Linked DNA regions of Homo sapiens. The protein of the gene in region 1 purifies or fractionates together with the protein of each later gene. This does not show direct contact. Each region holds a gene or a part of one and is shown on either strand. Other genes may lie near its edges. The genes, in order: OGDH, MCEE and SCFD1.

Region 1 (3,653 bases):
GTGGCGACACTGAAGGGAAAAAGGTAAGGCCCAGAGAGAGGCGTGCAAGGCAGATCGTCAAGGCCCCATGTTCCAGCATGGAGTTCCGCTCACCAACATAACCCAGAGCCCTGGGTGCATCTAGACTTTAAAAAAATATTTAAAGTCGGCCGGGCGCAGTGTCTCACGCCTGTAATCCCAGCACTTTGGGAGGCCGAGGTGGGCAGATCACCTGAGTTCGGGAGTTGGAGACCAGCCTGACCAACATGGAGAAACTCCATCTCTACTAAAAATACAAAATTAGCTGGGCGTGGTGGCGCGCGCCTGTAATCCCAGCTACTCAGGAGGCTGAGGCAGGAGAATCGCTTGAACCCGGGAGGTGGAGGTTGCAGTGAGCCGAGATTACGCCATTGCACTCCAGCCTGGGCCAACAAGAGCGAAACTCTGTCTCAAAGAAAAAAATAAATAAATAAAAAATATATGTATATGTATGTATGTGTGTGTGTGTGTATATATATATATATATATATATATATTTAAAATCAACTTTTAAAGAATAGCAATAGTAAAACAGTCCTGCTTACAGTGTTCCTTTTCCTGAAGTTGTAATTGTCAGAACTATGTGGGAAGTTTGCTTTTGTCTTCACCAAATCTGTTAAGGAGCCAGGTTGCAGTTATTCTGAATGGACAGAGATGTTTTCACTGAAAAGGAGGGGAGTCTGAGAGTCTCTGTAAGGAAAAAGTGTAGGTGAGCCTGAAGGAGAAATTGTAGAACTGAGACTTGTCAGGAGAGTCATGCTTGCTGTGATTAGAGGCGGGAGTTCACGGGCTGGTAGGAGACGGAGGAGGGCACAGACTGCAGGCAGGTGGGGTCCTGCTTCACCATTTCTGGTCATGTGACTGAGTGTTGGGGGTTGACTCGCCTGCCTGCTTGTGTAGAAATAGTCTCAACAGATTGTAACAATTTGCCCTTATTTAACTTCAAGATAGAATCTTGTCTGACAAATTTTATATTTCCTATTAATGATGACCTAAAAACCAAATAATCAGAAAAAAAATCAAATATTTGTAATGTCTTATGTATGGGTTCTGGGAAACATATAAAGAAGGCATCACCACTTTTCTCTCCAGAGCCTCCTGTTCTTTTTAGAAAAAAGGTCGTGTGTAAAGAAGCAAATAGCACATACACGGCATGATAGGAAACTGGAGTTAGCCGTGAAGAGCTTTGGAAGAGGTGTGCAGGGGTGTGGGCTAGAGTTGGACCAAGGATAGAAGGCACACCCCTTAGTAGCAGAGCAGGTAGTTGTCATTTTATTTGAGAAGTGGCAGGATTTAGGGAGGTGGGAAGGGAAGAATGTTTTCTGGAGATGAAAGGTAAGAGCAAAGATGTAGGGGGAATTGGGGACACAGAGCAGGGAGGGGCCGGCCTCCTAGTTGTGCCCTGGAAAGAAGTCAGGTCTATGTTAGAAGTGGAACCAATTGGCCAGGTGCGGTGGCTCACGCCTGTAATCCCAGCACTTTGGGAGGCTGAGGCGGGTGGATCACCTGAGGTCAGGAGTTCGAGACCATCCTGGCTAACACAGTGAAACCCCATCTCTACTAAAAATACAAAAAAAAAATTAGCCGGGCATGGTGGCACACGCCTGTAGTCTCAGCTACTCAGGAGGCTGAGGCAGGAGAATTGCTTGAACCTGGGAGGCGGAGGTTGCAGTGAGCTGAGATCACGCCACTGCACTCCAGCCTGGGTGACAGAGGGAGACTCCTTCTCAAAGGAAAAAAAAAAAAAAAAGAAGTGGAACCAATTATTACTTTACCAGGCTCTATAATTTTAAATACTGTAAATCTACTACTGTCATGCTTACAGTGTTAGAGGAAGGGAAACTGTCATCATAGGTAATGGAGCCTGGGCTGGGGAAGTGATTCCCGCATCGATCAATGCTCACTGTAAAGAACGAGTATGACCCACAGGGACGCAGAGGTCATTCCATGGCTTCAAGCTCATGGGCCAGGACAGTGCCACAGAAACTTCAACTAGATGCAAAGAGGCCTTAGCTCTGGGGAACCTGCAGCCCCCGCAGGCAGTAACAACACTGGGTGTCTGGGATGGCCTGGGCTAAGGTGAGATCGGCATGGGGAGATCAGCATTGTGATGACCAGTGCCTCTGGTATTTGCACCCTCCTTGGCTAGGACACTCGCCCAGGCATTTGGGCTGAGTAGTGGAATGAGATTACCGAAAACTTTGGGTGATTCCCACATTCATAGATTGTGGACAGAAATCCACTCTAGCAGTACTCACCTCATAATGCTGGAAATTTCCCAAAAAGGAATGAAATCATTAGAGTAAAAGCAATAGAGTATATTTTAAACTGCTACAGATGGTCACACTGATTGGTCCCTTCATGAGATGCCAGGACAGGAGAGGCTGGTTAGTCCCTGATTTGCTCATAAGTCTGCATGCAGCTGAGTCCGAACTGTCAGTCCCTTTGTTTTCCAGTCTACACAAACCTTGTTGTCACAAGTTTGCCCTTGCCCCAATGTGGATAGCTGCCAGGCCCTCTTTCTGAGCCTCCTCGTCACCTTGCCTCAAGCCCTCACATGTCCCCAGCAGGGTCAGTGTGGGGTCATTGCAGGCTCAGCCATCTGCCTGTTCTTCTTACTCCTCTTGACACCCATAGGACATGATTTGATTTCTATTAAATCCAGAAACTCAGGGAGCTGGAGTGTGTGTTATGTAACTCTCAGCATTTTTCGTGAAGAATTACATACTTTCTGTAAGTGCAGCTGAGGTCATCCCATAACCTCATGCATGATTGTGAAACAGACCTGATTTGGCTCAGTGCTAATATGGCCTTTGGGATCTTTGTTCATGAAAGCATTTCCTCAGTGCAGCAATGCAACCTGCTGCAAAGGGAGAACCCGCTCCTGCCAGAGGTATGGCTCAGGCTGCCAGACACAAGGAGATTCCCCATGTGTCCTGGCTGTGATTTCAGCAGACAGTTACCACAGTGCAGTATGGCATGGTAGTCGCAGTACAACATCACCAGGATGATCAAGAGCAAATACCATGACAAGAGGAAGACTGACTACAGGTGCCCTGTCAGCAGAAGACAGACTGGACAGAAAAGTATCTGCGGGAAGAAACAACACACTATCGGGATCAGGAAAGCATGAAATGTCAGTGACTCAAAACCAATGGCTTTTACACTCAGGCAGCCTGGGCATCGTAGCAAAGCTGCACACCTCCAAGGGGGCCCCGTAAGCAAACCAGATCCTTACGTCCACATGCTGCTATCCTAGTGAGCACCTGCCACATCCACCAAAAGGCAGGACACCTGCAGTTCTGTTTTTAAAAATTCTAGGTTTTGTCCCTGACACACAAATCATGGGTCTTAACCAAGGATGACTCAGCACAGCGCTGAGGACCAGGGTAATCACAAGAACTCAGGGAGGTGCAGGTCAGTAGGCCCGTAGGCTGAGGACACAGCAGGAGAGGGTGTGTTGTATATCACCTTGGCTAGCCACAGCGTCCAGGTTTTTTTTGCTAAACACCCATCTAGATGGCATTTTGTAAAGATAAGATTAACGTTTAAACCAGTAGATTTTGAGTAAAGTAGAAGACCTTGCACAATGTGAGTGGGTTTCATCCAGTCAGTTCAAGGCCTTCGAGAAAAAA
Region 2 (3,753 bases), on another chromosome or scaffold:
ATATATCTTCAACTTGTTTCAAACTATGATCAATTTTTTTTATTCATTACAGTAAGTAAACAGATTACATTTCTGTTAGCCCATTTACAGACGATTAATGAAAGTAAACCTATGCAGTCATGTAAGTTGGTCATTCTTGTCTCCCACCTAACAGGTTCAATTTCCATTTTCAGAACTTTTCTACGTGTTCACTCTGATTTTTCTGTGCTTTTGTTTTTCGGCGAAGTTTTATGTTCCTTAAAAGAGGGGCCATAACATAGAATTACCATGTAATCCAGCAATTCCACTTATGAGTATACACACCCCCAAAGAAGCGGGAATTCAGAAGTATTTGTACACCCACGTTCATAGCTGTATTACAATAGCCAAAAGGTGGGGATAACCCAAATGTCTATCAAGAGACGAATGGATAAACAAAATGTGGTATACACACACAATGGAATATTATTCAGTCTTAAAAAGCAATTTTTTTTTTTTTTCTGAGACGGAGTTTCGCTTTGGTTGCCCAGGCTGGAGTGCAGTGGCGCGATCTTGGCTCACGCCAACCTCCGCCTCCCGGGTTCAAGCGATTATCCTGCCTCAGCCTCCCGAGTACCCGGGATAACAGGCGTGTGCTACCACGCCCGGCTAATTTTTGTATTTTTAGTAGAGACGGGCTCACGCCTGTAATCCCAGCACTTTGGGAAGACGAGGTGGGCAGATCACCTGAGGCCAGGAGTTCCAAACCAGCCTGGCCAACATGGTGAAATCTCGTCTCCACTAAAAATGCAAAAAATTAGCCGGGCGTGGTGCCGGGTGCCTGTAATCCCAGCTACTCGGGAGGCTGAGGCGGAAGAATGGCTTGAACCTGGGAGGCAGAGGTTGCAGTGAGCTAACGCCACTGCACTCCAGCCTGGGCGACAGAGTGAGACTCTGTCTCAAAAAAAAAAAAAAAGGTAAATTTTACTTTATGTATATTCAACCACACACACACACACACAAGTGGAGACATTAAGCTTCAAGTATCTTAATAGGACAAATCAAAGGCAATCTTTGGAATACACTGTCTTCATTTTTCCTTTATGCCAAGATGTGTATGTAAGTACAAAACAAACATGCACCTTTATCTGTATTGAGTTCTTGCAGTATGTATATGACCTGTTGGAAGTCATACTTTTTCCCAAACTGTCAATCATTAAAGTGTGCAGTTCTAAAAATAGACATAAAAATGCCTTTTCCCAAATATTCATTTATTTATAGTTTTACGTTCCTATCTTGTGTATCACCTAAGAGGAAGGTATGCCTTACGGTTAAGAATGTGGGCTCTGGTGCTAGAAGGATTTATCACGAATGTCCCGGAGTAACTCTGGGGCATTACCACTTGGCACCTTCTTCCTAATAGGGAATCTCAGATTAAGGGAAATACTTGCCCTCTCATAAAAGGAGGAAGAGAAAAAAAAAAAGGATAAAAAGAGGAGAAAGTGAGTCAGAAAACGTGACAATTATTACAGTTATTTCTGTCATAACTGATTCTATGTACATATTTTAAAAAAAATGAAGGGGGAGAGAACTCAAGAAAGTTTCCAAATCCACATGCTTTTATCTGTGTACGCGATAAATATATTAGTGCACGTGGAAAAACCACTCCTTTTGTATTCTTTACACCACTGACCTTTGAGTGTTCCCAACAGAAAGCTGGTCACGCTTGGAGTTCGGCCGACTAGTAGTTGTTGTTTTTACGGAACGTGCTCTCCTTTCTGGTTTCTCCCCAGTCTCTTTATTGGTGCGCGGTAAAATAACTTACCGATCCGCTTCTATTTACTTCTGTCCCTGCCCTGCCTGACCTGCCGGGCAAGTTCCCTCGACTCTCCCGCCCACATACTGGAAGGTGCAGAGCCCAAGGCGCACAGCTCTCGGATGGAAATGGGACTCATGCACAAGGCAATCCCCGCTACTAAGCGGTGGCGCTTCTGGAAGGCACCCTCTGCCTAAGTGACAGCAGCTGCTGTGGAACGCGCCCCCGGGGGAGGACATTAGATCAAGGTGCTTTGGCCACGCCGAGGCCTCCTCCGCCCCCGACCGCCGTTCCCACGCTCCCTGTCCCATGGCGAAGGTCGCCGGTGCCCGGTATTCACCTACGGCATTCGCGGCTGCAGCCTTCAGCACCCGCGCCATTTTGGAAAGCAACCCGCCACGTCAAGACTAGCCACGGAGGTTGAGAGACGCGCGGCAGAGGGCGGGGCGGGAGGCAGAGGGGGCGGGGACAGAAAGGTCAGGGGCGTGGCGAAGGTCGCTGCTTTCCTGCTACAACGGGCCTACTTTAGCTAAAACAGAAACGTAAGGCCAGGACGGGTCACCCTTTGTGGGCCCCTGAAAAATACAAAACGAAGTTTGGAGAGAGTTGAAAGGCGTTTGGGCTGACCATGGAGATTTTTGTTTCCCACCCTCCTGCGAAAGCGCTCGCGCTGCCATTGGCTCTGGCTGAGGGCGAGTCCGGAACCTGTGCGCCGCGGAACTTTCGGCTCTGAAATCCAAGTTGCGCTGGGCGCATCTTTGCCGCGCGGTTTCCGGGCGGCTCCCTTCCCTTGCATGCTGCATTGTGTCGGGAGTTGCTGACAGCCATGGCGCCGCAGGTCTGGCGTCGACGGACCCTGGAGCGGTGTCTGACGGAAGTCGGCAAAGCCACGGGTCGGCCCGAGTGCTTCCTCACGTAAGTGCGCAGATCCCGGGCTCGGGGTGCGACCGGGGTCTCACGTGGACGCGGGTTGCAGGCCTCCGGCAAATTGTGGAGCTGGGGGAAGGTAAGGGGAAACGTAAAATCGCTTTTCCCCAAATTTCAGAGTTTATGCTTTCCTAGGCTATCAAAATTTTAAAAACTGTTAAAATTTGTATAGATGGATCTCTCAGTTGAGTGTTACTGAAATCACTCTAACCTCAATTGTTAACACCTAGAAGCTTCCCTTGGGCTTCTTACGCCCCCATCCCTCTACACACAGACTGTTGGTTTCTCCTTCCTCCTATGTGCTCTCAAAGCACTTAGCGCTTAGCATACTTTATTGAAAGTACGAACTTGTCACTTGTCTGTCCACCCCCCATGACTAAGCTTCTTCAGAAATAGAACTTCCATGTCTCTTCCCAACACAAGCGTTTTATATGTATTTTGTTGAAGAATTTAAAATGTGATCTATGAAATTATTACTCATTTATGTTTCAAACCCCAACCTTTCCCTGAGTTCCCAGCTCACAGCAACTACAGACTGAGCTTAGTTTGAATTCCGTAGCACACAACTGGGATATCCACACTGTACAACTTTTAACGATTTTTAAAATTTTGGTACTGTCAAGCATCTCAAATTCACTGCGTCCAAAATAGAGCTGTTGTGTCTGTTTAATAGAATTGTTGTTTCTACCCACCTATACTCTGCCATCCCCTGAAGTCCTTTTCCCATGCTACACCTGTCAAGCGCGTCTGTGTGAAGAGACCACTAAAACAGGCTTTGTGTGAGCCACAAGGCTGTTTATTCACTTGGGTGCAAGTGGGCTGAGTCCGAAAAGAGAGTCAACTAATGGTGATGGGGAAGGGGTTGCTTTATAGGAGTTGGGTAGGTAATGGAAAATTACAGTAAAAGGTGGTTATCTATTAGCAGAGGAGGACGGGGTCACAAGGTACATGGTGGGGAGATCATAAGACTTATTGTCCAGAAGAAGAATGTCACAAGGTCGATTGATCAGTTAAGGTAGGGCAGGGACAAGTCACAATGGAGGAATGTTGTA
Region 3 (3,653 bases), on another chromosome or scaffold:
GGCAAAGCAAATCCAACAGTACATCAAAAAGCTTATCCACCACAAACAAGTTGGCTTCATCCCTGGGATGCAAGGCTGGTTCAACATATGCAAATCAATAAACATAATCCATCATATAAACAGAACCAAAGACAAAAACCACATGATTATCTCAATAGATGCAGAAGAGGCCTTCGACAAAATTCAACAGCCCTTCATGCTAAAACCTCTCAATAAATTAGGTATTGATGGAACGTATCTCAAAATAATAAGACCTATTTATGACAAACCTACAGCCAATATCATACTGAATGGGCAAAAACTGGAAGCATTCCCTTTGAAAACTGGCACAAGACAGGGATGCCCTCTCTCACCACTCTTATTCAACATAGTGTTGGAAGTTCTGGCCAGGGCAGTCAGGCAAGAGAAAGAAATAAAGGGTATTCAATTAGGAAAAGAGGAAGTCAAATTGTCCCTGTTGGTAGATGACATGATTGTATATTTAGAAAACCCTATTGTCTCAGCCCAGAATCTCCTTAAGCTGATAAGCAACTTCAGCAAAGTCTCAGGATACAAAATCAATGTGCAAAAATCACAAGCATTCTTATACGCAAATAACAGACAAAGAGCCAAATCCTGAGTGAACTCCCATTCACAATTGCTACAAAGAGAATAAAATACCTAGGAATTCAACTTACAAGGGATGTGAAGGACCTCTTCAAGGAGAACTACAAACCACTGCTCAACGAAATAAAAGAGGACACAAACAAATGGAAGAACATTCCATGCTCATGGATAGGAAGAATCAATATCGTGAAAACGGCCATACTGCCCAAGGTAATTTATAGATTCAATGCCATCCCCATCAAGCTACCAATGACTTTCTTCACAGAATTGGAAAAAAACTAAAGTTCATATGGAACCAAAAAAGAGCCCGCATTGCCAAGTCAATCCTAAGCAAAAAGAACAAAGCTGGAGGCATCACACTACCTGACTTCAAACTATACTACAAGGCTACAGTAACGAAAACAGCATGGTACTGGTACCAAAACAGAGATATAGACCAGTGGAACAGAACAGAGGCCTCAGAAATAACACCACACATCTGCAACCATCTGATCTTTGACAAACCTGACAAAAACAAGAAATGGGGAATGGGTTCCCTATTTAATAAATGGTGCTGGGAAAACTGGCTAGCCATATGTAGAAAGCTGAAACTGGATCACTTCCTTAAACCTTATACAAAAATTAATTCAAGATGGATTAAAGACTTAAATGTTAGACCTAAAACCATAAAAACCCTAGAAGAAAACCTAGGCAATACCATTCAGGACATAGGCATGGGCAAGGACTTCATGACTAAAACACCAAAAGCAATGGCAACAAAAGCCAAAATAGACAAATGGGATCTAATTAAACTAAAGAGCTTCTGCACAGCAAAAGAAACTACCATCGGAGTGAACAGGCGGCCTACAGAATGGGAGAAAATTTTTACAATCTACCCATCTGACAAAGGGCTAATAACCAGAATCTACAAAGAACGTAAACAAATTTACAAGAAAAAAATCAAACAACCCCATCAAAAAGTGAGCGAAGGATATGAACAGACACTTTTCAAAAGAAGACATTTATGCAGCCAAAAGACACATGAAAAAATGCTCATCGTCACTGGTCATCAGAGAAATGCAAATGAAAACCACAATGAGATACCATCTCACACCAGTTAAAATGGTGATCAGTAAAAATTCAGGAAACAACAGGTGCTGGAGAGGCTGTGGAGAAATAGGAACGCTTTTACACTGTTGGTGGGAGTGTAGACTAGTTCAACCATTGTGGAAGACAGTGTGGTGATTCCTTAAGGATCTAGAACTAGAAATACCATTTGACCCAGCAATCCCATTACTGGGTATGTAGACATCTGTAATTTTTCAAATCCTGCTTTTTATGTCAAAGAGAAAAATGGCAAGGAAATAAACTATTATAAAAGATTTATTTGAGAAAGTTACAAGGTTTATGTTAAGGACCTAGAGTCAGTATTGATAACCTTGTTTTATCTAAAGGAGACTGAATTGCATTCAGTATATTTAATTTGCTAAGACCTAGAATAATCATTAATTCAAAATATATACAGATACCTTAGAACTAAGATAATTATATTTCAGTCATGCTGGATAATTTCTCCATACTGTGTCTTCCTTCTTCATCAATCATTTACTTGTTGATAGTCATGTTTTATCTTTCACTATTCTTTAGTTGGCATTAAACCATAAAATGCTGCTATTTGTGAGGGAACCCATAGATGTAATGCAAGAAGTTGGGGGAAAGAAAAAAGATACTTACTTTTATTTTTGCCTAATGGTTTTTGTGGGTTTGGTTTGGTTTGGTTTTGGGTTTTGGGGGGTTTTTTGGTTTTTTTTACAGAAAAGGTACAAAAATCAAGCCTCACGTGAATAAAATTAGTCCTAGGCAAGAAAGTTTAGCCACTACTGGCCTGACTCTTAAAGTTTGTGTGAAAGAGGGGCATCACTTATTATTATAGCATCTATTGTAATTTTTAAAATTGCAGTTCATCACTCAAGTGACACATCAGAATGTTGACTCTCTAAGAGTTTAAAAATATTTAAGATAACATTTGTTACTGGAAATGACCAAGCATCAGGAGGCCTGGTTGCATAAGTTGATTTAGCCAAACATTGGACTACTGTGTAGTTATGATAAAGATGAAGTAAATGTACATATACAGATACAGAAAGAGCTGTAAAATGTATTATTAGATGAAAAAAGATATAACATGTACCCTGTAATCCCATTTTAAAAAATAAAATTAAGAGGATGTGTATGTGCTATTATATGCATCAATGTTTTTCTAGAAGGATACACAAGCATATTGACATGTTTTTCTCTTTTTCTTGTTTGAAATTTTAATATACATCTAATACTTTCATTAAAATACAGAAACAAAATTACATTTGTATGTAACAAAAGATTGGGAGGAGATGTTTTAAATTTCAGATCTATATTTTGTCCTTGGAAACATTAGAAAGGGCAACAAGATTCTATTTTTATTAGACTTAGAAAACAGTTGTTTAACACAAGATTACTTTTTCCTAGGATTTCCATTTAAACAGGGTTAATTTGGAAGAATCTTCAGGAGTGGAAAACTCTCCAGCTGGTGCTAGACCAAAGAGAAAAAACAAGAAGTCTTATGATTTAACTCCGGTTGATAAATTTTGGCAAAAACATAAAGGAAGGTAAGCAAAATATCAATAAGTAAAAGATTCATTTTTTTAAAGAGAAATTAAGGTGTCATCCACCTTAATGAATTTGAGAAAAAAAAGGGTCATGTAGGTTCGTTCACCCAATGAGTGGGGGCTGTAATTAGATAGTCTGTAGATATTTGTCTTTATTTCTCCATTTCTCACTGATTCCTAAGTTGTTTTTTGTTCATTGTTGTTTTATAGGGACCGCTTCTCCTTTCAATGAGATCATCCTATACAGATAGTCTTTTTCAATTTTGTTGCTGTCTCCACTGACTCTATAAGACCATCTCTGCCTTTCATTTAAATTGGCTTTTGTGATTTTGGGGGTGATTTTTTCCTTTTTGTTACATGTTGCCCTCATGTAAACCTTGTTTTAGATACTTGTGGAGAGAGTACCTAAGCCTAAAAGCCTAG

What was found.
Region 2: the proteins of OGDH (region 1) and MCEE purify together in Homo sapiens (co-immunoprecipitation; one large-scale study listed by IntAct). This does not show direct contact.
Region 3: the proteins of OGDH (region 1) and SCFD1 fractionate together in Homo sapiens (co-fractionation; one large-scale study listed by BioGRID). This does not show direct contact.

The regions. Positions count from the first base shown.
Region 1 is NC_000007.14:44,676,127-44,679,779, forward strand, and holds part of OGDH (2-oxoglutarate dehydrogenase complex component E1 isoform 1 precursor), read left to right. Parts: coding exon 1-23; coding exon of another isoform or gene 24-101; exon of another isoform or gene 102-456; intron 457-3,653. UniProt on the Homo sapiens protein: 2-oxoglutarate dehydrogenase (E1o) component of the 2-oxoglutarate dehydrogenase complex (OGDHC). Participates in the first step, rate limiting for the overall conversion of 2-oxoglutarate to succinyl-CoA and CO(2) catalyzed by the whole OGDHC.
Region 2 is NC_000002.12:71,128,066-71,131,818, forward strand, and holds the start of MCEE (methylmalonyl-CoA epimerase, mitochondrial precursor), read right to left. Parts: upstream 2,165-3,753; 5' UTR 2,155-2,164; coding exon 2,115-2,154; intron 1-2,114. Other genes in the region: MPHOSPH10 (U3 small nucleolar ribonucleoprotein protein MPP10), read left to right, coding at 2,601-2,689. UniProt on the Homo sapiens protein: Methylmalonyl-CoA epimerase involved in propionyl-CoA metabolism.
Region 3 is NC_000014.9:30,667,166-30,670,818, forward strand, and holds part of SCFD1 (sec1 family domain-containing protein 1), read left to right. Parts: intron 1-3,090; coding exon 3,091-3,230; intron 3,231-3,653. UniProt on the Homo sapiens protein: Plays a role in SNARE-pin assembly and Golgi-to-ER retrograde transport via its interaction with COG4. Involved in vesicular transport between the endoplasmic reticulum and the Golgi.